Linked DNA regions of Homo sapiens. The protein of the gene in region 1 purifies or fractionates together with the protein of each later gene. This does not show direct contact. Each region holds a gene or a part of one and is shown in the gene's direction. Other genes may lie near its edges.

Region 1 (4,965 bases):
GAACGTATAGGTAGGCCTCACTACATAATACTAAATTATTAAAACTGTACTTTTATTATTTTCTTATTGTCGTTTGCTGTTGATGCTGTCATTATTACTACCAACCAAGAGTATATTAGAGGTCCTTTCTGCTTTATAACATTAGGTTCTTCTTGTGAGGCCTTAAGCATTTGCTAAACAGGTTCAAGTAAGTTTAGTAAAGTTTCATTACTGCCATTGATTCAATTATCAAACTGCTTTTGTACATATAAAGAATTCTTCAGATGCATGGTTTCTATTAACAAGATCCAATGCCTTCCTTTTATTTCCCCTTCAGTTCAACATCTAATATATAAAGATTGCTCTGACTACTACGCAATAGGCAAAAGAAGCAGTGAGACCTACAGAGTTACACCTGATCCCAAAAATAGTAGCTTTGAAGTTTACTGTGACATGGAGACCATGGGGGGAGGCTGGACAGTGCTGCAGGCACGTCTCGATGGGAGCACCAACTTCACCAGAACATGGCAAGACTACAAAGCAGGCTTTGGAAACCTCAGAAGGGAATTTTGGCTGGGGAACGATAAAATTCATCTTCTGACCAAGAGTAAGGAAATGATTCTGAGAATAGATCTTGAAGACTTTAATGGTGTCGAACTATATGCCTTGTATGATCAGTTTTATGTGGCTAATGAGTTTCTCAAATATCGTTTACACGTTGGTAACTATAATGGCACAGCTGGAGATGCATTACGTTTCAACAAACATTACAACCACGATCTGAAGTTTTTCACCACTCCAGATAAAGACAATGATCGATATCCTTCTGGGAACTGTGGGCTGTACTACAGTTCAGGCTGGTGGTTTGATGCATGTCTTTCTGCAAACTTAAATGGCAAATATTATCACCAAAAATACAGAGGTGTCCGTAATGGGATTTTCTGGGGTACCTGGCCTGGTGTAAGTGAGGCACACCCTGGTGGCTACAAGTCCTCCTTCAAAGAGGCTAAGATGATGATCAGACCCAAGCACTTTAAGCCATAAATCACTCTGTTCATTCCTCCAGGTATTCGTTATCTAATAGGGCAATTAATTCCTTCAGCACTTTAGAATATGCCTTGTTTCATATTTTTCATAGCTAAAAAATGATGTCTGACGGCTAGGTTCTTATGCTACACAGCATTTGAAATAAAGCTGAAAAACAATGCATTTTAAAGGAGTCCTTTGTTGTTATGCTGTTATCCAATGAACACTTGCAAGCAATTAGCAATATTGAGAATTATACATTAGATTTACAATTCTTTTAATTTCTATTGAAACTTTTTCTATTGCTTGTATTACTTGCTGTATTTAAAAAATAATTGTTGGCTGGGTGTGGTAGCTCACGCCTGTAATCCCAGCACTTTGGAATGTCAAGGCAGGCAGATCACTTGAGGTCAGGAGTTTGAGACCAGCCTGGCCAAACATGTGAAACGCTGTCTCTATTAAAAATACAAAAATTAGCCGGGCATGGTGGTACATGCCTGTAATCCTAGCTACTTGGGAGGCTGAGGCAGGAGAATCGCTTGAACCTGAGAGGAAGAGGTTGCAGTGAGCCAAGACTGAGCCACTGCACTCCAGCATGGGTGACAGAGAAAACTCTGTCTCAAACAAAAAAATAATAAAATTTATTCAGTAGGCTGGATTCTACACAAAGTAATCTGTATTTGGGCCATGATTTAAGCACATCTGAAGGTATATCACTCTTTTCAGGCTATAATTATTTGGGTAATCTTCATTCTGAGACAAACTTAATCTATATCATTTACTTTGCAACAGAACAACCCTACAGCATTTTGGTTCCCAGACTAAGGGAACTAATATCTATATAATTAAACTTGTTCATTTATCATTCATGAAATATAAAATACTTGTCATTTAAACCGTTTAAAAATGTGGTAGCATAATGTCACCCCAAAAAGCATTCAGAAAGCAATGTAACTGTGAAGACCAGGGTTTAAAGGTAATTCATTTATAGTTTATAACTCCTTAGATGTTTGATGTTGAAAACTGCTTTAACATGAAAATTATCTTCCTCTGCTCTGTGTGAACAATAGCTTTTAATTTAAGATTGCTCACTACTGTACTAGACTACTGGTAGGTTTTTTTGGGGGGGGTGGGTAGGGATATGTGGGTAATGAAGCATTTACTTACAGGCTATCATACTCTGAGGCCAATTTTATCTCCAAAGCAATAATATCATTAAGTGATTCACTTCATAGAAGGCTAAGTTTCTCTAGGACAGATAGAAAACATGAATTTTGAAATATATAGAACAGTAGTTAAAATACTATATATTTCAACCCTGGCTGGTAGATTGCTTATTTTACTATCAGAAACTAAAAGATAGATTTTTACCCAAACAGAAGTATCTGTAATTTTTATAATTCATCAATTCTGGAATGCTATATATAATATTTAAAAGACTTTTTAAATGTGTTTAATTTCATCATCGTAAAAAGGGATCATCTCAGAGAGAACAGCAGTATTCTGCGTATTTTTAAAAATGCTCTAGAGTAACATTTGAAGTAATTCACTGTAGTGTATGCCAGTCCTAGAAATAATTTTTTTAATTTCTGGTGTCTGTTTCTAATACACTAACCAAGTTTTCAAAATATATTTACAAAGATGCATCTTTACCCATTATTTTAAAATGATTAAGGAGGATAGTTGCTTCAGGTAACAAGCTAATTTTTCAAATATTAGGCCCTTACAGAACTATTTAGTCAAAAAGTAAGATATTCCTTTAAAATATATAACCCAAAGCTTTCAGTTAAACATGATATATCACAAATACTATTAAAATGTTAAAGAGAAATGCAAATAGCATTAAATGATGACCAAAATGTAAAATATTGTAGATTTCAAAAGCTGTGTCTCTATTAGGTGGGATACCAAATGTAAATGATGTAACTGACGTTGTTTTTTACTTTTTACTTTTTAAAAAAGACTAAAAACGTTTTGATATTATACAATGTATTTGTTTCAGATAAGGTCATTGTCATTTAGTATATATAATTAATATATGTACAAGTTTAAGTAAATTCCTGTGAGTAAAAATGGACTTATCACAAAACATAGTTCTAAAGAAAGGTATATGCTCATATACACGGTGTCCATTAATTTAATGGGAACTAGGTATAACTTCAGGAGAATTTGGCAAATAATTCATTAATCCATGTAAATATTCAAAAGCTTGTTCTATCCACATTATTTCAAGGGATCACTTTATTTTTCATTATACTTTCACAGCACTTTTCTAGTAAATTCTGTAACACAGAAATTCCATTTTGGAATCATTTCATGTTACCAATAATTCTAGACTTTTATAACATTTAACATGTTGATGGAAATAGATTACATCTGCTAGAACCTTTTGCCTTAACTATTCACCAATATATGCTAATATTCATAAATATGGATTGACTGTTTACAAACATTAGAATCTTGTCTTGGTTCCATTTTGATGGCTAATATTTGTTATCTTAATTAAGACTATTTCTGAGGTCATGATTACTTGAAAATATTGACTAAAACTGGGTCCTTAGAAATTCCAGGTGGAGCTGATTTACCTATGACTGAGGGGAAAAAAAAATCAAATTTTACTGATAATAGTAATGCTCCAAATGAATTAATGACACATCTGTTCAATAAATAAAGAGCTTAAATATACAAAACATAAGAAATCTGGGCAACAAAACTTGTGGTCTTTACTTTTGAATAGCTACCCAAGAAAAGGTTTTAAAGGTAAAAGTTATGAGTAATGTCATCACAATAAGCTCTTGTTTAAAATTCTTTTCTTTTATGTATAATTAGGTTTATGTTTCATGTCTTTTTAAAACCTTATAAAAGATTTAATTATCACATCTATTCTTCAATGTGGAAATATTAAATATTGTTGGTTGTAAAATAATATTTATGTACTTACTTGTGTCTGAAAAGTTGTAAAATGCTTACCTCAGCTATACAATATCTGTGACTCTGAAGACTTTAATGAGTACTATTTCATTAACAAGAAGTCAGAGGCAAATAGAGGAACACCATTATCTTACTTCCCTCTAGAATACTGTTGAAACATTTGAAATACAAAAGTTTCAGTTTCATTTTGTGGCATTCAACTTCCTCTCCTCTTTTTCCGTTATTAGTGTTGCTGCTCTGGTTAGCCCTCTTCATCTCCTTAGGACAACACAAACGCATCTGAATAGTCTGTACCTCTGGTTTCAGTCTATTCCAGTCCAACTTTCATCCCTACCAGGGGGATTGTTCAAAAGTACAATTCTGATCATGTTATTGTCCTGCTTAAAAAACTTTCAACAACGCCTTCTTTTCTTTTTTTTTATTATTTTATTTTATTTTTTTTAGAGACGGAGTCTCACTCTGTCGCCCAGGCTGGAGTGCAATGGCGAGATCTCGGCTCACTGCAACCTCTGCCTCCTGGGTTCACGCCATTCTCCTCTCTCAGCCTCCTGAGTAGCTGGGACTACAGACGCCTGCCACCTCGCCCAGCTAATTTTTGTATTTTTAGTAGAGACGGGGTTTCACCATGTTAGCCAGGATGGTCTCGATCTCCTGACCTCGTGATCCACCCGCCTAGGCCTCGCAAAGTGCTGGGATTACAGGCATTAGCCACCGTGCCCGGCCAACAATGCCTTATTTTCTACAAGATAAAATCTGGCAAATAAGTCCCTTCATGAAATGATTTTTACCACTACTTATACTTCTGCCATACTAAACGCCTTGTTGTACACAAACAAACTACGCTTTCTAATGTTTTCATTGCCTTTAGTATACTGTTTCCTTGGTCTAGATAGAATGCCATCCTCTTTCCTCACTGGGTTTTGTCTTATCACCCATGATTAACAGCAGGAACTCAGGAGCTGGCCTTCCTGGTTTGAATTTCAGCTCCACTATTTGCAAGCTGTATGATCCTGGGCAAGTCACTTAATG
Region 2 (4,514 bases), on another chromosome or scaffold:
TAGAACACAAATGATGGATTTAGAATTGGCAATGCTGCGTCAGCAAACCATGGTTTATCATCATATGACTGAGGAGGAGAGGTAAAAGTTCATTTTGTCTTAGCACACCTCAAAAAGCTTTTCATTCAAAGTCTTCTCAACTTATATTTTTTAAAATTAGGTTTTGATTCTACTGCTGTGTACCTTGTATCTGTTTTGTGAACCAGTGTAGATAAGATTAGTCATAGATAGTGTTTTACTAAGTAAACTTGTATGCCTTCAATATCCTAAGGGTAGTGGTAACCTGCTTTCCCGTGTTTGAGATATTTGTGAGAGGATAGGGGAAGAAAGACTAATGTCCTTGTGGATACACCTATTGTAGTTGATATTGTACTAATTTCTAGAACCTGAGATTTCCATGCCTTCTGTTAGCATATAGTAGTTGTTGAAAGATTTGTGATTAGGAATCTCCAAACTGCATTTTTCCAATTTTGTGCCCTTCACCATACCAATAGGTTTGAAGTTGATCAGCTCCAGGGTTTGAGAAATTCAGTCCGAATGGAACTTCAGGACCTGGAACTGCAGCTGGAGGAGCGCCTGCTGGGCCTGGAGGAGCAGCTTCGTGCTGTGCGCATGCCTTCACCCTTCCGCTCCTCCGCACTCATGGTACGCTACCTGGAGGGTGGTCGGAGTTTTCACCAAAGGTTTATTTATAATGTTCCAATAATTTAGGACGTGTGCCTTCATTTCAAGTCATTTATTTTAATGGTATTAAAAGCATGCATACTGTTTAAGGAGCTTTCCCACAAATCAGTTGAATGTACAATTTGTAATAATTGTCATAAATAGTATATTTAGAAATATGTTGAAAATTTTTAATGATAAATTTTAATAACAGGAAAGAATAAGGGCTTATACGAAAGTTGAGGGTTTTTAAAGGAAAAATGCTAGTGAATTAACATATGACTAATGTAAATTTTAATTGTTGCATGTAACTGCAGAGAACACAGATGCATATTTTGCTGTTTTTTTTTCTTTCATGCCTTTAAATAAAAAAGTGTTCCTTTTAAACTTTTTCTTTATTTTGGATTCTTTTCCATTTGTTTTTAAAGGAATCAAATGATACCTGTATATTTTCATACATATATATACATACACATACATATATGTATTTTCCTAAATATATAGATATATATCCAAGAGAATAAAAAGAAACATGTTTTTGTACCACTTTTCATACTTCTAATGTTTCTTTCCATAACATTTGAACTTCAACAGTTGTATTATTTTTGCAAATATCTTTGAAGTTGTAGAATATGTTGCTTTGAAATGCTGAAATAGTGAATTATTCTTTGTTACCTTAACAATGTATTTGATTTTGTTAAAAAGAAATGGATGAATATACACACATACAATTATGTGTGTATATACTATAAATGAAGTAGAATAAACAATGGTGTATAAACACATATATGTATAGCATAGACTAAGGATGTTCTGTATTGCTAATGAATGTACTTTTCAACATGGTTTTGATTTATCATTCTGAGAAGTGTATGTTGGTGACGGGAGAACTAGAACATCCTTTTTGCATATTGTATCAGTTTTAACTCACAATAATGCATTTTATGGGATCTGTGACACTTGAGAGTAACCTTTGTGACATAAAGGGATGCTTCCAGGCACTAATTAGCCAATTAATTTTATTATAAAAGTCTTGTGATTTGAAAAAATATATATGTACATTATAATTATATATGCATGTATGTATATATACACACACATATACATATATATATTGTTCTTACCTTTTCAGGGAATGTGTGGCAGTAGAAGCGCTGATAACTTGTCATGCCCTTCTCCATTGAATGTAATGGAACCAGTAAGCTTCTTTCCTCTTAAATCACTGGGGAAGGGAATGATACAACATTTCAGACACATAGTTTCCCTAGTTTAGATGAAATATATGTTTATTTTAAATACATAATTTGATAAATTATTGTTGATTGGAAGTGACTTTCACCTTTGAAAGTCCATTGCTGTCTGAAGCCACTAGAAAGCCACCTGAATTGCAATAGTGATTTATCTTTCTGACTAAAGGAGGTAATGCACCATAAAAACATGTACAGTGGCTCATGCCTGTAATCCCAGCACTTTATTTAAATGGTTGAGGTGGAAGGATTGCTTCAAGCCAGGAGTTTGAGACCAGCCTAGTCAACAAAATGAGACCCTTTCTCTACAGAAAATTTAAAAATCAGCCAGGCATGGTGATATGTGCCTGTAGTCCCAGTTACTCAGGAGGCTGAGGCGGGAGGATTGCTTGAGGCCAGGAGCTCAAGGCTACAGTGAGCTATGATTGTGCCACTGCACTCCAGCCTGGGTGACAGAGCAAGACCCTGTCTTTAAAAAATAATAAGCCAGGTGTGGTGGCTCATGCCTGTAATCCCAGCATTTTGGGAGGCTGAGGCAAGTGGATCACCTGAGGTCAGGAGTTGAAGACCAGCCTGACCAACATGGTGAAACCGCATCTCTACTAAAAATACAAAAATTAGCTGGGCATGGTGGCAGGCATCTGTAATCCCAGCTACTTGGGAGGCTGAGGCAGGAGACTTGCTTGAACCCGGGAGGCGGAGGTTGCAGTGAGCCGAGATCAAGCCATTGCACTCCAGCCTGGGTGACAGAGTGAGACTCCATCTCAAAAAAAAAAAGAAAATTGATTTTTAATTTACATTTCAGGAGACATGTGCTTTCACAGTTTGATCCTGGTTCTTTAGGTAGTTAGAGCTGTAACATGACCACGTTTTTAACAGAAATCTGTCTTTATTGTGTTAGACAGATTGGTTCATTTGGGGGCAAAAGCACTATGAGTAACTATTTTTCACTAGTTACTCTTCCTTACAAGTGATTTGGACACTTTGGTGGTAACAAGTAAAATTTCATCCTACTATGTATTCTGTTTACCTGTTTTGTTGCTTCATCTCAATAGGAATTTAAATTTTACTTACCATTTTTGCAAATAAAATTGAGTAGTTATTAAATTAATGGAATAGATTTATGTCTTTACAAATTACATGATTTTAGGCAATAATGACAACCAGGACTTTAACCTTTTTAGCTACCAATCTTAATTCCAAGAGAGAAGAATAACATTTTTTTATGATCTCCAGGTCACTGAACTGATGCAGGAGCAGTCATACCTGAAGTCTGAATTGGGCCTGGGACTTGGAGAAATGGGATTTGAAATTCCTCCTGGAGAAAGCTCAGAATCTGTTTTTTCCCAAGCAACATCAGAATCATCTTCTGTATGTTCTGGTCCCTCTCATGCTAACAGAAGAACTGGAGTACCTTCTACTGCCTCAGTGGGCAAATCCAAAACCCCATTAGTGGCAAGGAAGAAAGTGTTCCGAGCATCGGTGGCTCTAACGCCAACAGCTCCTTCTAGAACAGGCTCTGTGCAGACACCTCCAGATTTGGAAAGTTCTGAGGAAGTTGATGCAGCTGAAGGAGCCCCAGAAGTTGTAGGACCTAAATCTGAAGTGGAAGAAGGGCATGGAAAACTCCCATCAATGCCAGCTGCTGAGGAAATGCATAAAAATGTGGAGCAAGATGAGTTGCAGCAAGTCATACGGGAGGTGGGTAAAATCTGTGTTTCATTCATTTATTTGGAGGTATATGTTAGAGGAGATTTTGTCTGAATATTAATTATTTACAGAATGTTCTTTTGATTCACTGTATTCAATAATTTTCACAGAGCTTTTAAATTAGCTTTCCTGTTGATCAAGTTTGTGTCAATTAAGATATATTTGTAATGGCATTTCTGCAAATTTCATACTCTAATGTGAAATAATTACAATTCTCTGTGTTCAGTATGGTGAAAAAGATATGTGAAGGACTCAAAATAAACATGACGTACTCTTTGGACCTCTTGTTTCCACATCTACAAAATGAGGATTTACAGTTTAGATCTCTTCGAGGATTAAAAACTGCATTTTATAGCTGGACGTGGTGGCATGTGCCTGTAGTCCCAGCTACTCGGGAGGCTGGGGTAGGAGAATTGCTTGAACCTGGGAGGCGGAGGTTGCAGTGAGCCAAGATCATGCCATTGCACTCCAGCCTGGGCAGCAGAGCAAGACTCCATCTCAAAAAAAAAAGAAACTGCATTTTATAATTACAATTGATAGGAGAAAATGATTTTGTGATTTTAATAAGTATAAATAGATTGATTTGGTTTGGTGTTTTTTATTCAAAAATCAAAATATACGAAGAAAAGAGGGTTTGCCCTAGGTGATAGCAGCATAAGAACTTGAAGAATTACCATAGTTATGGATGACCAAAAGAACTGCAAAAGGAAATTACATATGATTAGTAGTGAAAGTTCAAAAGTTGAGAAAATTAGTAAAATAAATGTTTTTTGCACTGAGATCAGGTAATAGGAAGGAATAGAATATATCGTTTAAACAGCTCAATGCAATTATCTCTGTTTACCTAGTAGTATTCTGTGGATTAAATTGTACATAAGCAAATGTGAAATTTGC
Region 3 (4,514 bases), on another chromosome or scaffold:
TCACCAGCCACGGAAACCACCATTTTACTGTCTGTTTCTATGAATTTGACTACTCTAGAATCAAACTAGAGTATATAACTGGAATCATAAAGTATTTGTCTTTTTGACTGGCTTCTTACACCTAGCATAAAGTCCACAAGGTTCATCCATTGTTGTAGTGTGTGTCAAAATTTCCTTCCTTTTTAAGGCTGATTTTACATATTCTTAATGCTTAACATTAAACATTATTTTTTTTTCCTGGCCAAAAAAAAAAAAGTTGATCTGGGGAAGCCCTAAGATAGTTCTCTCTAACCACCTGGTGTTCAAGCTGGGATTTATTCAGGCTGAGTGGGGTAGAACTGGGAGTGGATGGTGGGTTGAGAGGCACAGGGTGAGGGGTGTGCTTGCTTGCTTTCTAAGATGAGTTCAGCCCTACCCCAGGTGGCCAGAGTGTCCCCAGCCTCTAACCTATGGTCATTGCCTTATGAAAAGCAGATCAGATCAGAATGTGGGGATTTCCCAGGCCCTTGGTGTGCAGTTACTCTGGCCAAGCCCTGTGGCCACAGATGGTGGTACTGGGTGGGTGGACACTTATGGATACTGGCTCAGCCTGTGCCGAGTGGCTAGGGGTCAGAGGGCTGGTGCCTAAGGCTCCCAGATGGGCAGACCCCTGGGAGTGTCTCTGTAGGTCAGCATGGTGTCCTGGCATCCTTCTTAGGAGAGGGGCTTTGGCTTGGCCTAGGCATAACCGAGTGTCTCACGGCCCCACAGGCCTTCCTCGAGACCACCCGGAGAGTTACCACTCCTTCATGTGGAACAACTTCTTCAAGCACATTGACATCCACCCAGAAAACACCCACATTCTGGATGGGAATGCAGTCGACCTACAGGCAGAATGTGATGCCTTTGAAGAGAAGATCAAGGCTGCAGGTGGGATCGAGCTATTTGTTGGAGGTGAGCTTGACACTCTGCAGCACACATGTCCAGGGCCAGACCCGTGGGAAGGAGGACAAGACACAATGCCTGTCTGCAGACAGCTTCTTCTGGGTGTGCTAGTGACCGTAGAGACAGAGGCGGGAGAAATGGGCCCTGCCTGGCTCTGTTACTCAGGAACTATGTTATCTTGGAGATCTCTTTCTGCAGTTTGATGCCTTGTCTGTAAACTGAGAGGTTTGGGTTTGGACTCTGAGATTCTGTCTACTCCCCAGTCTTAAGGTTTTATGGATCAGTCCTGGAACTTATCTAAACATTTAACATCATGGACTCATGTAGTTCCGGAAGGCTCCACACAGCCCCTGTAGATAGCCAGTTGAACCCCAGAGAAGTTAGGTGACTCACTCAAGGTTCACAGGTGGGAGCAAGTGTGTGCTTCTTGGATTTGTGCTCGGGTCCTCTGGGCTGCCCTTCTGTGTATCCATCTATCGCCACCTCTGGAGTTACCCATGAGGGGTAACATTGAACTGCCTTTTATTGCTCTAGAGATCACTCTTCTATACTTCAAGGTGGGGAGGAGGGGGGCAGGACCTCTCATCCTCTGAGATTTTAGAACCTTGGCAGCCCCTGTCCAGGTTCTCTGGGTGTTTTGTTCACTGCACCTCTATCCCAGCAGCAGGACCCTCTAACTACAGGCAGAAGAGACAGAGAAGGTCCACTTTTCTGACAATCTGGGGAGGCAGAAGCTGTTTGGAGTGTTTCCTCCTCAGCTTTTTGAGGGTGATAGCAAGTTAACAATGTCTGTGTGTGCCTCAGATAGACATGATGGGGAGGGTCTCCTCTGAGACAGTATGGCAAAGAGAAAGAAATGGTAGGGAGGGGGACAGATCACATGTTTAAGGTGTACCTGCCCAGGGCTGCAAATGAGAAAGGTGACACAGCTTTCAATGATTTTTCTTCAGACCCTAGTTAGGGAAGGAGAGATTGTCCATTCTTGAAATCTTGGATCCCTGGGACTGACAGGGCTGCACGGGCTCTCTCCCTATAGGCATCGGCCCTGATGGACACATTGCCTTCAACGAGCCAGGCTCCAGTCTGGTGTCCAGGACCCGTGTGAAGACGCTGGCCATGGATACCATCCTGGCCAATGCTAGGTTCTTCGATGGAGAACTCACCAAGGTGCCCACCATGGCCTTGACGGTGGGGGTGGGCACTGTCATGGATGCTAGAGAGGTAAGGGCATAAGGGCCCCACCAGCTTGCGCTGGTGGACTTGTCTTTCTCTTGTTAATCTTAACTATACTGGTACCACCTACATTCTTATTAAAGATGAAGGCATGGTAAATAAGGCTAAAATCCCTGCTGACCCTGTTACTCACTGTTCCTCTTGCGTCTTTGGAAGACATCATTATTCCCAGTGTGAGGTGAATCCCTTGAGCACGTTTTTGGTGCCTTTGGCTGACTGCCTGAGACAGCAGGCTCTCTGGCCTCAGGCCCCTTTCATGCTTTTCACAGGCAGAGAGGAGGCCAGCATCGCTAATGTTGGAATATTTGTACCTGACCAGGTATGGAGAGAGGGGTTCCCTTGTTCCTTGTAGTTGGTAGAGGTCACTGTTGGGACACCAAGGATGCTTGTGCTTCTAGCCCCGTGCTCAGAGATTAATAAATGTGGTGAAGTATGATTAAAATATAAGTGTTTTAAACTGAATTTAGCTTTTCCCCTAAAAAATTGGCTATCATTTGAATGTGAATTTTTTGTGGTTCCAATTTCCTTATTTTCATTAGAACTTTAGAAGCATTTTCTCTTCCTTTCTGACGTGTATAGACATGTTAGATTTACATTTCTTTGCCCAAGCCAATAAACAAGCATCTAAATCAGTGAAAACTTCCCTGTTTAAAGTGAACTTTTGTGAAATGAGTGATGGCACCCAGATTTCTGTTGGGTAATCTTCAATCAGTACGTGGGGTGGGGGTGTTTACTCGCTGTTTTTAGCTCTGCAGCTTGGAAACAGGTTTAGGGCCGTCTTTATCATGAGGGCATCTTGATCTGGGAAAGGACCTGGGGCTGGAAATCAGGAAATTATCTTTTCTAAAGAGTTCTGGGTTGCTGAGGGGTCCGGAAGAAATAGTCACATTCCCTCTCTGCTTCTGCATTCTAATCTTTTAAGAAAGGAACAGTAAATCCTGTTCACAACTCTGTGGCACATGTGAATTAAAATGAAAGGAAATCTACAGAACTGAGTTTTTTTCTCTTTTCCTGCCCTTGAATAGAGCTGAGTTCTTTAAGATCACTTACATTCTCGATATTTTAACTGTTAAGTGGAGACTGTGCCTTTGTTTTATTATATATTAACAAAAACCATCACCCCAAGTCACATTAGTTCATAGGTTTAATGCTGTGAACTGAAAGTGACCAGATAATGGGGCAACCTTTCTGGGATTCAGCCTTAGAGGCCCCACAGATAACTCCCACCATTGCTTGCAAAGTGCCCTTGCTGGTGGTGCAGGTTGGGAGCCCTCTTTCACAAACTGTGCTTGTGTAGAGTCACCCAGCTGATGGGATAGCAGGCCTGGGCATGGCATGTCTGTTTACAGGGCACCTTCATAGTCATCATCAAAGATACCTGGAGGCACTGTCACGTGGTAGTCAAGAACATGAACTTTGGGGTCATAAATGACCCTGGGCAAGTTATTTAACCCCCTGGGGCTCTGTTTTCTTATAAGATGGAGATAATGATGCTGCCTGCCTCGGGTTATTTGTGTGATAAAGCACAGGGAGCACTGAGCAAAAGTATGTTGCATGGTAACCACTTACAATGTGATATGAAAAACAATCATCCTTACAACTGTTTAGGGTGTCTGGAATGCTCCCCTCCATCACAGACTTGTTTTCTGATCCCCAGGTGATGATCCTTATCACAGGTGCTCACAAGGCATTTGCTCTGTACAAGGCCATCGAGGAGGGAGTGAACCACATGTGGACCGTGTCTGCCTTCCAGCAGCATCCCCGCACCGTGTTTGTGTGTGACGAGGATGCCACCTTGGAGCTGAAAGTGAAGACTGTCAAGTATTTCAAAGGTGAGGGAGGTGTGGGTCCAGGAGGAGGTGGTCAAGCTTAGGGTGTGCTAGGAGTAAGGAGTAGATCCAGCTTTCATCCTCTGGTCATTTTAATTGACAACTGTAATCTTAAGAAATATCAAACCCAACTGCATCACACTACACAGTCATTTCTCTTCTGCCTGTGACTGCAAAGATCCATTTCTGGAGATCTGTTTGCTCTGAGGAGGAGGAAAGAAAACGCAATGTGGTCCAAGGACTATGTGGTGACCTCACAGTGCCATTAAGCCTCAGGTTTTCTCTTTTCAAATCTTAAACAAGCGATTCCTTTCTTTTATTTACTTTCTTTCTTTTTGAGACAGGGTCTCACTCTGTCGCTCAGGCTGGAGTGCAGTGGTGTGATCTCAGCTCACTGCAACCTCCACCTCCCGGGCTTAAGTGATTCTCCTTGCCTCAGTCTCCCAAGTAGCTGGGATTACAGGTGCCCGCCACTATACCCAGTTAATTTTTGTATTTTTAGTAGAGGCGGGGTTTTGCCATGTTGCC
Region 4 (4,514 bases), on another chromosome or scaffold:
TTTTTTTTTTTTTTTTGAGACAGAGTCTCACTCTGTCCCCCAGGCTGGAATGCAGCGGCACAATCTGGGCTCATTGCAACCTCTGCCTCCCAGGTTCAAGCGATTCTCTTGACTCAGCCTCCTGAGTAGCTGGGATTACAGGTGTGAACCACCACTTCTGGCTAACTTTCTTTTTTGTATTTTCAGTAGAGACGGGGGTTTCACCACGTTGGCCAGGCTGGTCTCGAACGTCTCACCTCAAATGATCTACCCGCCTTGGCCTCCCAAAGTGCTTGGGATTACGGGCATGAGCCACCACGCCCAGCCTTAACATTGCAAGGATCTTTAAGCTCTGGAAATTGAACCAAGAATCTTTAGGCTCTGAGGATTGTAGACTGGGCTAAATTGAGAGTAGCCTGCCAGTTCTGTAGCCATATGATAAGAATTAGGAAGTTAATATGGGATGTTAACATTTTTAAAGTAGGAAGAAGAATAAAGTGGCGGCCATTTTATTTGCAGAATACTTTGACAAAAACAAACCTTGTAGCATTGATATAATATTCTTTAGATTTCCTGATAAAAATCTATATTAGCTAAATTTTCTTTTTCTTTGATAACAGCAAGTTACTGCTGTCACTCGTTTATTTTTTTGAGAAGGAGTCTCGCTGTGTCGCCCAGGCTGGAATGCAGTGACGTGATCTCGGCTCACTGGAACCTCCACCTCCCGGGTTCAAGCGATTCTCCTATCTCAGCCTCCCAAGTAGCTGGGACTTCAGGTGCACTCCATCATGCCTGGCTAATTTTTGTATTTTTAGTAGAGACGGGGTTTCACCATATTGGTCAGGCTGGTCTCAAACTCCTGACCTCAGGTGATTCACCCGTCTCGGCCTCCCAAAGTTCTGGGATTGCAGGCATGAGCCACCGCACCTGGCCTGTTAGTCACTCATAAGTGATTTTAGCATTTAAAGAAATTTATTAATGTAATAGATCTTTGCAAAGGGGCATGGGGAGAGGGAAGTGGGGCACTGAATAGTGCTTGCCTCGGGAAGTCGTTTCCAAATGCTGTCCTCTGTTGTCTGTTTGTAATTTGACTGATATTTGTAGTCTCTCTATCAACTTTTGCAAAGAAGTTTTCTTTCTTAATATTCTGTTGGCACGTTGTTATCCTTTAACACTGCCAATCTGCCGTTTGCTTTCTCAGTATTATTGGTGTTGTCCTTAACATGGAAGGATCTGTAGGTCCTGATGATTGAACCATGGGTATCTTCACAGGGGTCCTGGTACCTGTGTTAATGAAAAACACAAATTGTTATGTTATTTGTTCTCCAGACTTTACTTATTTTCCTCTTCTAATTCTGTTAAAAATCTGTTTCTTGAAAAATATGTTTACAGCATGAAGAAAATTATCCTTTTTCTTTTGCAGCTTATTTGCTTTTAGTTCTGTTCTGGACACTGTGTTACTTAGACCCAAAGAAAAGAACGATGTAGAATATTATAGTGAAACCCAAGAGCTACTGAGGACAGAAATTGTTAATCCTCTGAGAATGTAAGTAGAAAACAAATTGCTATTTTGCCTTTACATGGTGTTCTATTTGCTGTTTTCTGGTATAGTAATTAATTTATACCTTGTCTTCATGTAATAAGAGATGGGTGAAAATTAGTTCTTATGGTAAAATATTACGTTTTTAAACCTTTGGTCCTTGTACTTTTTTGCTTATTTAATTTCTTAAATGTGGCCAAGGTGTAGAACATAGCATATTCCATGAAATGATTTAACCTATTTTGCTAGAGTAAACTATAATTTAGCAATTGCAGTATGTTTAGGAAAGCTAATACATAATACTTAGGATTCTTATCTTTTGAAATAGTTTATTCCAACACTTCTGCTACAAGTAATCATGCTTATTAGTTAAATTGGTGTAGTCTAGCTTCTTAAATCTGAAAGAAAAGGAGAAAGGGAAATTCTTTATAGAATAGCTAGTGTTTAATACTTTGGACTAGCAACAGATGAGATGTATTTTAGTACCATATTTTTTGGTTAAAGGAATATATTTGGCCTCTTTCCACCTGCCTTAAAAAGGTGATTCTTTTTCCATTTCCTACTTTAGGAATTATAAATATGTCTTTTTATGGCCACAGGAAGCAATTTGTAATGGTACAAGCACAAGTGACAGGAGATATCTAGTAAAGACTTTGAATAAGTGGTAGTAGTGATATGTGATAATGTCACATTATAAAATTTAAACTATGAAGAATTAGGACCATAGATCATAAAACAAATTTGTTCATTCAGGAATATAGAGAGAAAGTGATTTATTTAAAGTCCATATTAAGATAAATTTGAATCCTTTTATATACTGTTCTTATTTATCAATTAAAGTAAAAAATAGTTTGATATCAAATTTGAACCAAAAAAGCAGAATACTCAAATACAATGAGGATTCCAAATTATCTGCTATATCACATGACTAGGAAAGTAAATTATAAGAGAATAAATTTCCTCACTTATATCTTTTGCTTTCTTTAAATTCTGTAATGATTTCTCTAATGATCTTACTCTTTAAGATAATTGTGAATCTTGATTTTCACATCAACTATTTTGTCTTATGCAAATTTTTAAACATACGATTTTTTTCCCCCAAGTAATTGATACTGGAACAAGACAGGTCAAACCCGAAACTCTAAGGCATGTTAACACCTCCTTCCTAGAAGAGAGGAAGAATAAACATTCTTTGGATCCTATTGTTCAGCCAGTTAAGAATCATAGTTAATCACACTTTCTTACCCTGTCCACGGTAAGAAACTGGTCAGATGCCCTGTTGTGATCAGGATTCCCTGTGTCTGTAGCATTCATATCTGTATATAGCTGACTGGTTTTATTTGGTGCTGAAATCTCTGCTTTTCTTCAGAGACCCTGTCTTTTTAACCTTACTCATTTTGTATTCCCAGTGGCTGACAGGTTACGTTACTATGTAAGTGGTAGATTCTCAGTCTGTATTGGTTGCAGGAAACTAATGAGTGAATGAATAGTATAAAAAGTGGATATAAAATTAGCTAGTTCTGACTTGTCCTTAGTAAACTTATGGTAGCCGCCAAGTTCTCCTCTGAAGCCATTTTTAGAATTACAAATTTAAAGTGATATTAAACTGATTGAATGTGTCTTGCATTCAGACAAAGAAGAGAGAAAATGTCATCATTATGCCAATTGGTTTGATTGCAGATTTTAGATTTTCAGTTTCTTATAAATTCCCTTTCCCATTTCCCTTGGTGGCTGTTTCACACTTCAGTATTAAAAGGATATTCTCTCTCAAAATTGTATATTCTGCTTTATAAAGTAAATGCTTTAATTTCCCAAGCAAATATTATTTAAAAAATCAGTCACAGCAAACCTAAAAATTTTTTATCTTAGTGTATGACAGTTACTTGTAGAGCATATAATAGTGTCTAGGATAATTCTGGTTCTAGATCTTTAATTTTGCAAACTTCAAGAAGAAGCTTATCATTGTTTTCTTCAAAAATAATTGTCTAACCTATTGATTTATGACATACTGGAGTTGTATAAGAAATGTGTTGGCCAGGTGTGGTGGCGCACACCTGTAATCCCAGCACTTTGGGAGGCCGAGGTGGGCGGATCACTTGAGGCCAGGAGTTCAAGAGCAGCCTGGCCAACATGGTGAAACCCTGTTTCTACTAAAAATACAAAAATTAGCTGGATGTGGTGGTGCACGCCTGTAATTCCAGCTACTTTGGTGGCTGAGGCATGAGAATCTCTTGAGCCTGGAAGGCGGAGGTTGCAGTGAGCTGAGATCGGGCCACTGCACACTCCAGCCTGAGTGATAGAGTGAGACTCTATCTCAAAAAAAAAAAAGAAAAAAAGAAATATGTGATTAAGATGTGTTATATAATTTAATACATGCCAATATCAATTAATAGTTTTTTACTAACTTAGATATGGATATGTGTGTGCCACAAAAATTATGAAACTGAGGAAAATACTTGAAAAGGTGGAGGCTGCATCAGGATTTACCTCTGAAGAAAAAGGTGACCATCTTAACTTATATGCGTTAAAAATAACTGAAGAGCATATTCACATGTCAAAGTATTAGCTGAAATGTGTGTCTGTGTAGTTGGGGGGTTTTCTTTTAAATTAGAAATTTCTTTTTATGTGATATATGGTTAGCTCCTCTTTTTGTAAATTCTTCCTCTCTTCTAAAAGTGATTGATGATGTGGAATAATGAACTCCTTTAAGAAGCTGGCTGGTTCTAGTATATTAAATGCTTAAATAAAAAGTCCTTTCCTTTCCACCTAGCAATGATATTCTCAGTTGTTTCTCTCTTGTGGTGCAGAGTTGCATTGGGTTTTCTACATTTTCCCACTGAGTCTTCCCTGTTGTAAAAGGGAGTTAGAAAGCTGCTAACTAGGATTAAGTTTATAGTCAGGGAACAGTGTTATAATCTCTTCCTAGCTAATGGGCTTACTCAAAGATTCACCACCTGACTTTGAATTTGTCAGCAGCATACTGTAAACAGCTGTA
Region 5 (3,653 bases), on another chromosome or scaffold:
AAGTGCCAAAGCTGCGGGCTGTCCTGCAGCTCCTCCCTCTGCCAGCGCTGTGACAGCCTGCTCACCTGTCCTCCAGCTTCCAAGCCCAGCGCCTTCCCCAGCAAGGCCTCGACTCATGACAGCCTGGCCCACGGGGCATCTCTGCGGGAGAAGTACCCAGGCCAGACTCAGGGCCTCGACCGCCTCCCGCACCTTCACTCCAAATCCAAGCCCTCCACCACGCCCACTTCCCGCTGTGGCTTCTGCAACCGCCCAGGCGCCACCAACACCTGCACCCAGTGTTCAAAAGTCTCATGTGACGCCTGCCTCAGCGCTTACCATTATGACCCCTGCTACAAAAAGAGTGAGCTGCACAAGTTCATGCCCAACAACCAGCTGAACTACAAGTCCACCCAGCTCTCCCATCTCGTGTACAGATAGACCGGCCTCGCCCCTTCCAGCTCCAAGGGCTACATCAACCGACCTTTCGGGTTTCACGGTGAAGAAGTACTAACGCATTGATCTCAGAGGCGGAGGCCTGCACTTGACCATGTAGGTGGCAGAGATCGTGGGCTGGCTGTGTCCACGTGGGAGTTCACTTAGCGACTCAGATATCTCAACCAATGGCTGCTTTGTTGTCTGACAAGGGAGAAGGTGGCACTTCCGTTCAGATTCATTTTGCTAATCTCTCCACTCCCTGTTCAGTTGGTTCTTTTTTTGGGGTTTTGTTTTGTTTTGTTTTGTTGTTTTGTTTTTTCCTTTAAAGAGGATTTCTGTCTCTGGGACCCTCGCTGCACCTACCCCTCCCATTGCAAAGCCAACTTGGACTGGGAAGGGCCCTTCAGGTCACCAAACATCCACCTGGAGCGGCGAGCTAGAGGCCTGTTGGCTTGTGAAATGAGCCCTCCTGCCACACGGGGCCTCTCCCAAAGGCTCATCCCTTGGCCGCCCCCTTCCTAAACACAAGGATCCCCAGCTGGACTCCCCACCCCCTGGCTTCCCCACCTCTCCAGGTGTCAAAGGTGAACCGAGTCCAGTATTAGCTGAATGTCATTTCGTACACCACAGCTCAGTCAGCCCATGGCCTTCGTGAACTTTGCTCCAACACACTGATGTGTGGGCTTCCCACAGCAGGACTGACTTCCCCCTTTCTGTTGTTTGCACATGCCCCTCTTACTGTACTGTCAATAGATATTTTTGAGATTTATTTTTAAATAAATATTCAACTTGCTGTGTGTTTCAACGTGGTTAAAAAAATGAATTATGTAGCTATTTATTAAATGCCCTGGGTTCTTTAGTCTTCCAAGGGAGGGCCTCGCGCCCATTCGTGTTGTATCCTCCACTCACTATGGCCCGAGGGGAGAGGAGAGTTTGGGGCAGGGAGGAACAGACATGAAGCCTCCTTTTCTTGAGCTGGTGGAGAGCCACTGTCTTCCCTGCAGTAACTATCTATACACCTACCTCCAGTGTGCACTTAGGGGGTGAGCGCGGGTGTCGAGGTCTGTGTGTCTGCAGACTGCTAACCTATGACAATTCAGGGACCTCACCTGTCGGACCTATAGCTTGCTGAGCAGGAACCTTGCACTTCACACTTCTTGAGTCTCGTTTCAGAAGGAAAATCATTTGGGATTCCTACTGCCCCTCCATCTCAATCCTCTTCTCTTCACCAGTTTCCAGGACTCATCTGCAACATTTGCAATCTTTTTGCACTAAAAGTGGGCAGGAGTCGGCATGTGCCCATCAGAGAGACGGCTCCTCAGATGCTCAGCTAAGCCTAAGCGCTTCCAAGCCTGAAGGCCCCTTCAGCTTCTCATGTGAATTACCAACCCCTGGATTTTCCTTGTGGGGGTACAAGAGCAGGAGTGGGGCAAGAGTTTGAAAATAAAGCCGCTTCCTTGTGAACTAACTATATTTTAGCCATAACTGTTTGTGATGTACACAATGTTAAGGGATTTATATGCAGTGGGCTTTTCTGGGAGAAAGTTATTCAGCTCTTGAGCAAGTTTAAGTCTGGCTGAATCCTGAGGCCACTGTGAATTTGCTGATGTTCTTCCAACTCAGTTGAGTGATTTTAAGGTTTTCCAAATCTTCTATGGCTCTCTTTTTAATATATATATATATATATATATATATATATATATATATATATATATATATCTATCTGGTAGATCACATGTAGATGTACAGTGTGTATATTAAGCTGAATTTCAACCAACTTTATTACTAAGACCAGCCTAGCAGGGCATTCATCTTTGATGTTCTTCCTTTTCACATTTCAGAATCGGCAATGCCTGGCCCACTCCTGAGAGCTCTAGTTTTCTAGTTTTCCATTTCCAGATTGCGCCAGCATTACAGTAACTAACTCTTTCTAACCAACCGTGATGCCACGTAACTTACCCTATGGACAAAAGCAGGAATGACTAACACATCCTAGGAGGGAAAGTCCAGTGTACCTGTCATCACGGACGCACTGTGGTCACAGACTGGAATACGAAATACTACAGCCCTGCTCCCAGGTGTGCATCTTACTGGATGAGGTTGCTGTGATTGAGATAGTTAAATACATGCTAATTTAAAAATGCAGATGTTTTACATTTGATTTCTACCAAGAGTTGAAATGTTGAGAGATGATTAAAAATAATAATAATAAAGTGTCTTCCATTGTTAAATGAAGTGTTTGGGGTTTTATGTCCCCTGGCCCTGCTTTGAAGTTTGGTTACTTGGGAGTTTATTTTTCCTTAAGCTGTATTTAGTTTTTTAATGACAAGACTTAAATTTTCTCTTCCATGAAACTGACAAATAGCATTTGAGTGCTATACTGCGAGCCTGGCACTTTTTATTTTTTTAATTTTTTGTAAAAAAAATTTTTTTTTTTTTCGAGACGGAGTCTTGCTCTGTCGCCCAGGCTGGAGCACAGTGGCGCTATGTCAGCTCACTGCAAGTTCCGCCTCTTGGGTTCACGCCATTCTCCTGCCTCAGCCTCCCAAGTAGCTGGGACTACCACACCTGGCTAATTTTTCGTTATTTTTAGTAGAGACGGGATTTCACTGTATTAGCCAGGATGGTCTCGATCTCCTGTCCTCGTGATCTGCCTGCCTCGGCCTCCCAAAGTGCTGGGATTATAGGTGTGATCCACTACGCCCGGCCATGTTTTTTTTTTTTAGTTTAAGACGGGCTCTGTTACTTCCCAGTCTGGAGTACGGTTGTGTGATCATGGCTAGCTGTAGCCTGGACCTCTTGGACTTGAGTGATCCTCCCACCTCAGCCTCCCAAGTAGCTACAGGTGGGCACCACTATGTCTGGCTAATTTTAATTTTTTGTAGAGGTGGGGTCTCACTATATTGCCCAGGCTGGTCTCAATCTCCTAGGCTCGAGTGATCCTCCCGCCAGGCATTTGTATCCTGAGACTATGTGCATGATCTTACTTACTAGCTTCAGTCATCCTATTAAATAGGCACTGTTACCATCTCCATCTTACATATGGGGAAATGGCGGTACACAGAGTTCAGATGTTTCCCAAAGAGGGGACTGCATCATCCAGGAGAAATGCTTGTTAGTAGAGACAAAGAGGCATTAATAACATTGGAAGATGTTTTTTAAAAGTTAATTCCATTTGAATTTTTTTCCATCCATTTAACTGTCTTGAGGAGGGAGTCAGTTCGATGCTACCTTGT
Region 6 (3,500 bases), on another chromosome or scaffold:
TCAAGAAGAGAAATGACTGAATGGTATACTTACTTTTGCCCTATGGATTTATTTGTAAAAGAACAGGATCTATTAAAATGTATAAGGTAGGGCCATGTGCGGTGGTGCACGCCTGTAATCCTAGGAGTTTGGGAGGCTAAGACAGGTGGATCACTTGAGGTCAAGAGTTCGGGACCAGCCTGGCCAACATGGTGAAACCCCGTCTCTACTAAAAATACAAAAAAATTAGCCAGGCATGGTGGCATTCACTTGTAATCCCAGCTACAGTAATCTCAGCTACTCAAGAGGCTGAAGCAGGAGAATCACTTGAACCTGGAGGGGGCAGAGGTTGCAGGGAGCCGAGATTGCTCCACTTCACTCCAGCCTGGGCGAAAGAGTGAAACTCCATCTCAAAAATAAATACATAATAGTAATAAGGTAAAAAGTTTGCTTAAATACTGTCTTAGAATTATTTGCCCATGTTTGTTCTTTTTTTGGTGGGTAGTCTGATGTTGACATTGTAGAACTTGCGAGGCTTCCCATTTTTCTCTAGTCAGATGTTTTCCTTTCCCTTAGTCCTCACGTTATTAAGACTACTTGTGTCATAATCCTGTATGATTATTGATGTGAATGATGTTTTCTTCTAAGCTTCAGAGTAACTTTGCTTCTTAACATTCTTTGTATACTATTCATATTTTAATATTTTTATCTTCCTTTCTACTTACCAGTTTTCTAATCTTTGCCATCCTTTTTATTTACATTTCCGAAGCAAGAGCTATCATTTTTGTTGGTTATTGGAGTCAGTATAGGTTATAAGTACTTTTTGGAACTCTTCTAGGTAAGATTCAGTGAAACTTTGGAAAATGTGTGATAAAAATTATATGAAAGCTATGGCAGGTGCCAGGGGTATTATATATCCTTCTATGATTTCCACTTTGTTGGTTTTTTTCTCAGGGGTTGGGGGGCGGGGGGACATGGTCTCACTCTGTTGCTTAGGCTGGAGTGCAGTGGTGCAATCCTAACTCACTGCAGCCTGGAACTCCTGGGCTCAAGGGACCTTCCTGCTTTAGACTCTCCTGTAGCTAGGATGACAGCATGCATCACCACCCCTGGCTAAGTTTCCAATTTTTTGTAGAGATGGCGGTCTCACAAAAAGACCCCAGGCTGGTCTCAAACTTCTGGCCACAAATGATCCTCCTACCTCAGCCTCCCAAAGCACTGAGATTACAGATGTTAGCTACTGTGCCCAGCCCTGAACCCCACACTGACTCATACTGTTATCCTTGAATTGGACTTGATTGCTAAAATTTAAGAAATCAGATAGTTTCTGTGCTCATTTTATAAGTTGTATATGCTTTTATCTAAGGGTCTAGTTTGAGTTAGGTTTTGGAGCCTCCACTGTTTACAGTGAACCGTTGTTTGGTTATGCTGTTTGTTTATATTGGGGTAATTTCATTCTTTAAAGTAGAATGATCACGGATTGATCTTAAAAAAGTGGTAGTATCCATTTCTCCAGAATTCATACTCAGCTGATTTGGTTCTTTTTAGTCTTTAGAATATAATTGTTTTTTGAGTTTTTATTTTGTTTTATTTTTGAGACAAGGTCTCGCTTTGTCACCCAGGCTGGAGTGCAGTGGTGCCATCTTGGCTCACTGCAACCTCCGCTTCCTGGGTTCAAGCAGTTCTCTTTTTTTTTTTTTTTTTTTTTTTTGAGACGGAGTCTCGCTCTGTCGCCCAGGCCGGACTGCGGACTGCAGTGGCGCAATCTCGGCTCACTGCAAGCTCCGCCTCCCGGGTTCACGCCATTCTCCTGCCTCAGCCTCCCGAGTAGCTGGGACTACAGGCGCCCGCCACCGTGCCCGGCTAATTTTTTGTATTTTTAGTAGAGACGGGGTTTCACCTTGTTAGCCAGGATGGTCTCGATCTCCTGACCTCATGATCCACCCGCCTCGGCCTCCCAAAGTGCTGGGATTACAGGCGTGAGCCACCGCGCCCGGCCTGGGTTCAAGCAGTTCTCATGCCTCAGCCTCCCAAGTAGCTGGGATTACAGGTGTGCACCACCATGCCTGGCTAATTTTTGTATTTTTAGTAGAGATGGGGTTTTGCCATGTTGGCCAGGCTGGTCTTGAACTCCTGGCCTCAGGTGATCCGCCCATTTTGGTGTCCCAAAGTGCTGGGATTACAGGCAGGAGCCGCCGCACCTGGCCTTACATAACTGAATGTTAAAGTTTGATGAATTAAGTATAATAGTCATATAATTCTTACTCTTTTCTTTTAAAATTGCTTTTAATAGCATACTACCTTTCTTTACTTATTCTGTCCAGGCTTTCAAGTGTAGCACTCAAAACAGATGAATAGTTTTTCCTTTAAAGAGGGGTCATATACTTGGGGAGAAGTTTCAAGGTACAATTTATAATGATTTACCTAACATTCAACACATGTGCTTTTTGTTGTTTTTGTTTTTTTTTTTTTTTTGCTTTGAGGGTTTGTTTTTGTCTTTAAGCATAGCATAATGTCCTGTTTTATTATGATTTCATCTGAGAAATTCTGCTCAGATGAAATTTCTTACCTTTCCTTTGGGGAGCAGGCCTCCCAAGAGCAATATGCCTGGATTTCAGCCTTTGCTCACCCTTGGCCAAGCATTCTTGTGCAGCAAACAACATGGAGCACCCTGCATGGTACACATTCAGATTCTGAACTTTGTACTAATTTGGGATTGTTTTGAAAAGTGTGTAACAGCAAAAGTAACATACATTTAATAAAAACTATGTATATCAAAATTCTAAAACTAAAAATATAGCAGAAGAGATAAAATAGTGTTTCTGTTGCAGAATAGTATGAAAACCTGATGAAAATAAAATTTTTACTGTAAGTATAGTATTTAAAAATTACTGGCTAGTTTATATTTTTATATAATACTTTACATTAAACTTTATTGAATTAATAATATCTATCTCTCTATCTATCTATATATTCTTTATTTTTGGATTGAGAAACATTAGCTTATTTGCCATAACATTTAGAGCATTCTGATCCTGTAATTAATGTGTTAGTATGTCATACAAATAATTGTCTAATGCTTTGTCTTAACAGTTCTGTACATCTTGTAATTAAGCTTTCGGTTTTTCCTACTTCCTCAGGTACTTTGGTCTAGGAAGCCATATGGTTCGTCTCGAAGTATCGTAAGGAAAATTGGTACTAATTTGTCTCTGATTCAGTGTCCAAGAGTTCAGTTTCAGGTATTATATTTTATATATTTTAAGTATTTTATTAATATGTACATTAGAAATATAAATAGGCAAGATGGTTTTAAAAGCATTTTGTTTTTGAGACTTTTCACCAATTGATGCCACTATCAATACAATAGAAGAGGATTAAAAACCACAGTAAAGCCTTTCTAATTTTAGTTTCTCTGTGACGTGATTGAGATTTTTAAGATATTTATCCTTCTTAAGGATGCATATGTGAAGATTTAGGAGCATATAATAAGCTAAGCAGTTGTTAATTCCTAGGTGACCTCA
Region 7 (4,514 bases), on another chromosome or scaffold:
CCCCGTCTCCGCTCCTCCCCGCACCACCCCGCTCCCCTCAACCCCACCCTGCTCTGCCGCAGACCTCAGTTTGCATCCATCCTGTGCCACATACGTTATGTTTAAAGTAAAAGTGTTTTCAGTTGTTAGAGATGAACATAGTGTGCAATTTGGTTTCACACTTTAGTGTTAATATTTGACCTTTTTTGGCATATCGTTAAAATTACAGGAAAGCCTATTTTCAGTCAGTCACACCCGTCGTAGGCTTCATCATTGCCTCATTTTGCATTTCCCTCTTTTTGGACTTTATTAGATTATTTTTCTCTTCAGGTTTTTATGCAGACGTGTCCTGTGCTTGGGTGTGTGCTCATGTGGTGGTGACCGCGCTGAGCCTCTGGGCTCTGGGCTCTAGGCTGGTCGTGACACCAGCTTCTCCATAGGGCCGTCTGCTTACCCCTCAGCCTCTCTGGCGAGACAGTCAAGTGTGTGTCCGGACACCAGCTGCTGCGTAATCGGTGGGATAAAGCAGCCGCCTCGTGTTCACAGACCTGTGGGCAGGGCCTGCTGGGGATGGTTTTCTCTGCTCCCCGTGCCCAGCACAGGCAGCTTCACCCCACGCTGGTGGTCGGCACTGGCCTCAGCCGGACCACGCACAGAGGCCTCCTGGGTGGCCATCGTGTGGCCTTCTCGTAGCGTCCCAGGTGGGCAGGGAGTGTGTGATATGTTTGTGATCTCGCTGTGGACATTGGCCTAAAGCCCTGCCCTGAGCTTTGTCCAGGCTTAGGCGGGGGACGGTGTCCCCCTCAGGGAGCAGGTGGAGTGGAGGAAGTGGCGGGGCCATCTTTGGAGTGGCTTATAGAGAAATTCACTCCAAGCCTGGCTTCCGTGTTGTCTCTCTGAAGGTCGGGAGAGGTGGGCTTGAAAACCTTGTAGCTTGAGAAGTGGGTGCCGCCTGTACGAAGCCGAGGCGGTGCCCTCCCTCTCCACAGCTGCCCGCCCTTCACAGAGTCCTGGCGGCAGCTCGGGGCCGCAGGTGGTGTAGAGCGTGGCTGTGTGGGGTGGCAGGCAACTCCCTTCTGACGCGCTTTCCCGCCACAGGCTTTACTGCAGATGGTGCGTGACGAGAGCCACCAGATCCTGGCGCTGTCAGAAGGCCTTGCACCCCCAAGCGGCGAGCCACACCCACCCCGGAAGGAAGACGAGATACAGGACATCTCGCTCCATGGGGGAAAGACGCAGGTTTATTTTGCCCTTCACACACTTCTTTTCCAAAGGATTTAAGGAGCTTGTGGTAATGGCCGCGTCCTTAGGGCCACGTGGACACTAGGATTTCTTTCTTTTTTTTTTTTTTTTTTTTTTTTTTTGAGACTCGGCTCACTGCAACCTCCACCACCCCGGGTCAAGCAGTTCTCTGCCTCAGCCTCCCGAGTAGCTGGGATTACAGGTGCATGCCACCATGCCCAGCTAATTTTTGTATTTTTAGTAGAGACGGGCTTTCACCATCTTAGCTAGGCTGGTCTTGAACTCCAGACCTTGTGATCCACCCGCCTCAGCCTCCCAAAGTGCTGGGATTACAGGCATGAGCCACCGTGCCTGGCCTAGGATTTTTTTTAGCACGGCCAAAAAGACTGAGGTCCAAGAACCCTGGGGAGGCCTTCCCATCTCCCACAGCCAGCGCAGGCTCTCGGGGCAGGTTCCCTGCGGGACGTGGAGGTGTGTGGGGGGCAGAAGGGCTCAGGGCTTTCAGGCCTGTGCCCTGTGTGAGCCTGCGGGGAGGCTGAGAGTGGTCCCTCCTGGCCATGTGGCCCTGCGGACTCGGCCCATTCCAGCACTTGTCCCCCAGGGCCTCTCCTCCTGCCACTCGGGTGACTTGCCCTCCGGCCTCATTCCTCCCCTTGGGTCTCTCCTACCTCCCCCTCCACACCCCAAGCCCCAGCAACTGGACCTCAGGGCCTCACCTCTGTGCTGTCGACCCCGCACCCCACTTTTCCCCAAGTCCTCCCCATCTCCCTGCCTGTCTGCTTCCATCACCAGGGCTTGTGGAGGTTGTGGAGTGGGTGCCAACTCCCATCACGCTCCCTCCCATCTCCGTGCCCACCCTGTCCTGCCCCTGTGCCTGCCTCTGACTGGGATCAAAGCTTTGTGAGGGAGGGAAGGGCTTTCTCCCTGTGCCTGGAACGCACAGGGTGTGCTGGTGCCATGGAGAGCCGGTGGGAGGGTCAGCCCCACCCGCCTCCGCTCGCCCCTCCAGCAGGCCCTGGTTGTGTGCGAGCGGCAGCCTGGCTGGCATTCAGGAGGCTCATTGGTGCTGCACGCTGCCCCTGGGGACCAGCGGGTAGCCCCTTGCAGCCTTAGGTCCCCTCCAGGCCCTGGGCCTTGAAGGCACAGCAGCAGGAAAAGAGGGAAGGAGCTTTGCTGACATTTTCCTGACCTTACTTTATCGTCTTTTTCAGTCTCTTCTGTGCTCATGATGGCAGCCTTTGCTTCTCGTGCCTTGAATGGCCCTGGGCAGTGTGTGTCTTCTCTTCTGTCAGGGTCATTTCTGTTTGAACGGCTGTCAGTCTGCTCAGCTGCCGTAACAGAACACCCCAGACCAGGGGGCTTAAACAGCAGACATTGATTTCACCTGTTGTGGCATCAGGGTGCCCACAGGGTTGGATTCTGGTGTAGGCGCCCTTCCTGGTTTGCGGACAGCGTCTCCGTGCTGTGTCCTCATATGATGGAGACAGCGAGTGAGCTCTGGTGTCTCTTCCTCTTCTTAAGAGGCCTCATTTACCCTGAATCACCTCCCGCAGGCCCCATCTCCAAACGCAGTCACACTGCGAACTTTAGGGCACAAGGATGCAGGTGCATTTGTGAGGACGCCACGTTTCTTCCTTCTTCCTTTAGGAAGTGCCCACCGCGTGCCCCGATTGGAGAGGGGACCTTCTGCAGGTTGTGCAAGAGGCCTTTGAAAAAGAGCAGGAGATGCAGGGGGTTGAGCTGCAGCCCCGACTCAGTGGCTCAGATCTGGGGGGTCACAGCTCCCTGCTCGAAAGGCTGGAGAAGATCATCCGTGAGCAGGTGAGTGTCAGCTCTGCCACCAGGCCTCAGTTTGCCCCAGGGGTCCAGCCCTGGCAGAGAGGGTGACACAGACTGTTTTGTGTGTGAATTTCGGTTTGTGTGTTTCTCTCGACCGCTGGAATGTGGCTGTCACTTACCCAGGTGTTGACGCTCAGTCCATGCAGGATGCTGCACTTTTCCACCTGCAGCTGTAACAGGACAGGTGTGCTCGAGATGCACCCTCAGGCCTCACTCTTTTCTGAGATAGGTGGCTAAAGAAACGTTCTCCATTCCAAGTAGCCCCTCCTAGGTTGAGAGGTGCTCTGTGTGCAGGGCTGGGTGGCGTTGGTGCCGTGGGGACACTGGAAATCCTGTTCCTGCCAGCATACACGAGGAAACCTAGTGTTGAGAGTAACTGGCTTGCAGGCCTCACGCAGGGTAGTGCAGCCCAGCCCTGACGCCTGCAGGCCCCAGAGCTGAGGCCCAGCAGATACTGTGCACCCATCCCAGACTCAGCAGGCTTGTCCCGGCGGAGCTGGTTTTGAGGGCGGGCAGCAGGGAAGGCCGGGGCATGGGGTGGCTGCCCAATGCTCAGGCTGCTTGTCCCATTGTGCCCCCAGGGAGACCTGCAGGAAAAGTCCCTGGAGCATCTTCGCTTGCCGGACCGGAGCAGCCTGCTGTCCGAGATCCAGGCGCTGCGTGCCCAGCTGCGCATGACGCACCTGCAGAACCAGGAGAAGCTGCAGCACTTGCGCACGGCGCTGACAAGCGCAGAGGCGCGCGGGAGCCAGCAGGAGCACCAGCTGCGCAGGCAGGGTGGGTGTCACTGTCTACACTGCCTGGGGCCCGGCCTCTGCACCTGCCCGCCCGACACTCACCTGTGTGGCCTTGGGAGCAGAGGGTGGTGACAGGGCATCATCTAGTCAAGCCCCTGAGTGTTGCCATGGTTGTCAGCTGATAGGACTGAGCAGAAAGGACCCTGGAGACAGGCAGCGCTGGGTGGGGCTGGCACGGAGGCCTCACTCTTGGGCCTGATGTGGGCAAGAGGGGCCTGGGTTGGGCTCTGAGTGCTGGCAGATTCTTGGGAGCTCATGCTAGAGTTCAGGAATGTCTCGTAGGTTTCTACATTTAATTTAGCTTCTTCGGGAGTTTTTATGTAGATGCTCAGGTCATCTGTGGGTAAGTAACGATTTTTTGTTTCTTGCCCGTGTTCTCTCACGTGCTGTGCCGTCAGCTGTGTGGGCAGATGCCATTCCCTGCTCTTAGTTTTGGGGGCAGGAGCTGGTCTCGTACCATCGCATGTGGGGTCAGGCGCCCTTGGTCAGCTTGGGCAAGTGCCCTCTGTTCCTAGTTTTGGATTCCGTCAAGGGGAACGGCCTTGCAGTTCAGCCCACGGCCCTTGTCCCGGCGCCCATGCCCTTTGTGCTCTCTGGGGCTGGGGGCCGGCGCTGTGCACATGCTCGTGAGGGGCATGGGTGGGGCTGGCGCTGTGC

What was found.
Region 2: the proteins of FGL2 (region 1) and ITPRID2 purify together in Homo sapiens (affinity purification with mass spectrometry; 3 studies listed by BioGRID and IntAct, with this or other methods). This does not show direct contact.
Region 3: the proteins of FGL2 (region 1) and GNPDA1 purify together in Homo sapiens (affinity purification with mass spectrometry; 3 studies listed by BioGRID and IntAct, with this or other methods). This does not show direct contact.
Region 4: the proteins of FGL2 (region 1) and CYLD purify together in Homo sapiens (affinity purification with mass spectrometry; 3 studies listed by BioGRID and IntAct, with this or other methods). This does not show direct contact.
Region 5: the proteins of FGL2 (region 1) and SPATA2 purify together in Homo sapiens (affinity purification with mass spectrometry; 3 studies listed by BioGRID and IntAct, with this or other methods). This does not show direct contact.
Region 6: the proteins of FGL2 (region 1) and MTFR1 purify together in Homo sapiens (affinity purification with mass spectrometry; 3 studies listed by BioGRID and IntAct, with this or other methods). This does not show direct contact.
Region 7: the proteins of FGL2 (region 1) and PCNT purify together in Homo sapiens (affinity purification with mass spectrometry; 3 studies listed by BioGRID and IntAct, with this or other methods). This does not show direct contact.

What each region holds. Positions count from the first base shown.
Region 1 is NC_000007.14:77,192,337-77,197,301, reverse strand, and holds the end of FGL2 (fibroleukin precursor), read left to right. Parts: intron 1-316; coding exon 317-1,023; 3' UTR 1,024-3,933; downstream 3,934-4,965. UniProt on the Homo sapiens protein: May play a role in physiologic lymphocyte functions at mucosal sites.
Region 2 is NC_000002.12:181,918,802-181,923,315, forward strand, and holds part of ITPRID2 (protein ITPRID2), read left to right. Parts: coding exon 1-81; intron 82-494; coding exon 495-645; intron 646-1,795; coding exon 1,796-1,861; intron 1,862-3,146; coding exon 3,147-3,611; intron 3,612-4,514.
Region 3 is NC_000005.10:142,002,563-142,007,076, reverse strand, and holds part of GNPDA1 (glucosamine-6-phosphate deaminase 1), read left to right. Parts: intron 1-750; coding exon 751-933; intron 934-1,960; coding exon 1,961-2,145; intron 2,146-3,814; coding exon 3,815-3,989; intron 3,990-4,514. UniProt on the Homo sapiens protein: Catalyzes the reversible conversion of alpha-D-glucosamine 6-phosphate (GlcN-6P) into beta-D-fructose 6-phosphate (Fru-6P) and ammonium ion, a regulatory reaction step in de novo uridine diphosphate-N-acetyl-alpha-D-glucosamine (UDP-GlcNAc) biosynthesis via hexosamine pathway.
Region 4 is NC_000016.10:50,782,927-50,787,440, forward strand, and holds part of CYLD (ubiquitin carboxyl-terminal hydrolase CYLD), read left to right. Parts: intron 1-932; exon of another isoform or gene 933-1,263; intron 1,264-1,402; coding exon 1,403-1,525; intron 1,526-3,912; coding exon of another isoform or gene 3,913-3,928; coding exon 3,929-4,020; intron 4,021-4,514. UniProt on the Homo sapiens protein: Deubiquitinase that specifically cleaves 'Lys-63'- and linear 'Met-1'-linked polyubiquitin chains and is involved in NF-kappa-B activation and TNF-alpha-induced necroptosis.
Region 5 is NC_000020.11:49,902,386-49,906,038, reverse strand, and holds the end of SPATA2 (spermatogenesis-associated protein 2), read left to right. Parts: coding exon 1-420; 3' UTR 421-2,648; downstream 2,649-3,653.
Region 6 is NC_000008.11:65,679,234-65,682,733, forward strand, and holds part of MTFR1 (mitochondrial fission regulator 1 isoform 1 precursor), read left to right. Parts: intron 1-2,810; exon of another isoform or gene 2,811-2,847; intron 2,848-3,119; coding exon 3,120-3,218; intron 3,219-3,500. UniProt on the Homo sapiens protein: May play a role in mitochondrial aerobic respiration. May also regulate mitochondrial organization and fission.
Region 7 is NC_000021.9:46,424,754-46,429,267, forward strand, and holds part of PCNT (pericentrin), read left to right. Parts: intron 1-1,077; coding exon 1,078-1,218; intron 1,219-2,868; coding exon 2,869-3,042; intron 3,043-3,641; coding exon 3,642-3,837; intron 3,838-4,514. UniProt on the Homo sapiens protein: Integral component of the filamentous matrix of the centrosome involved in the initial establishment of organized microtubule arrays in both mitosis and meiosis. Plays a role, together with DISC1, in the microtubule network formation.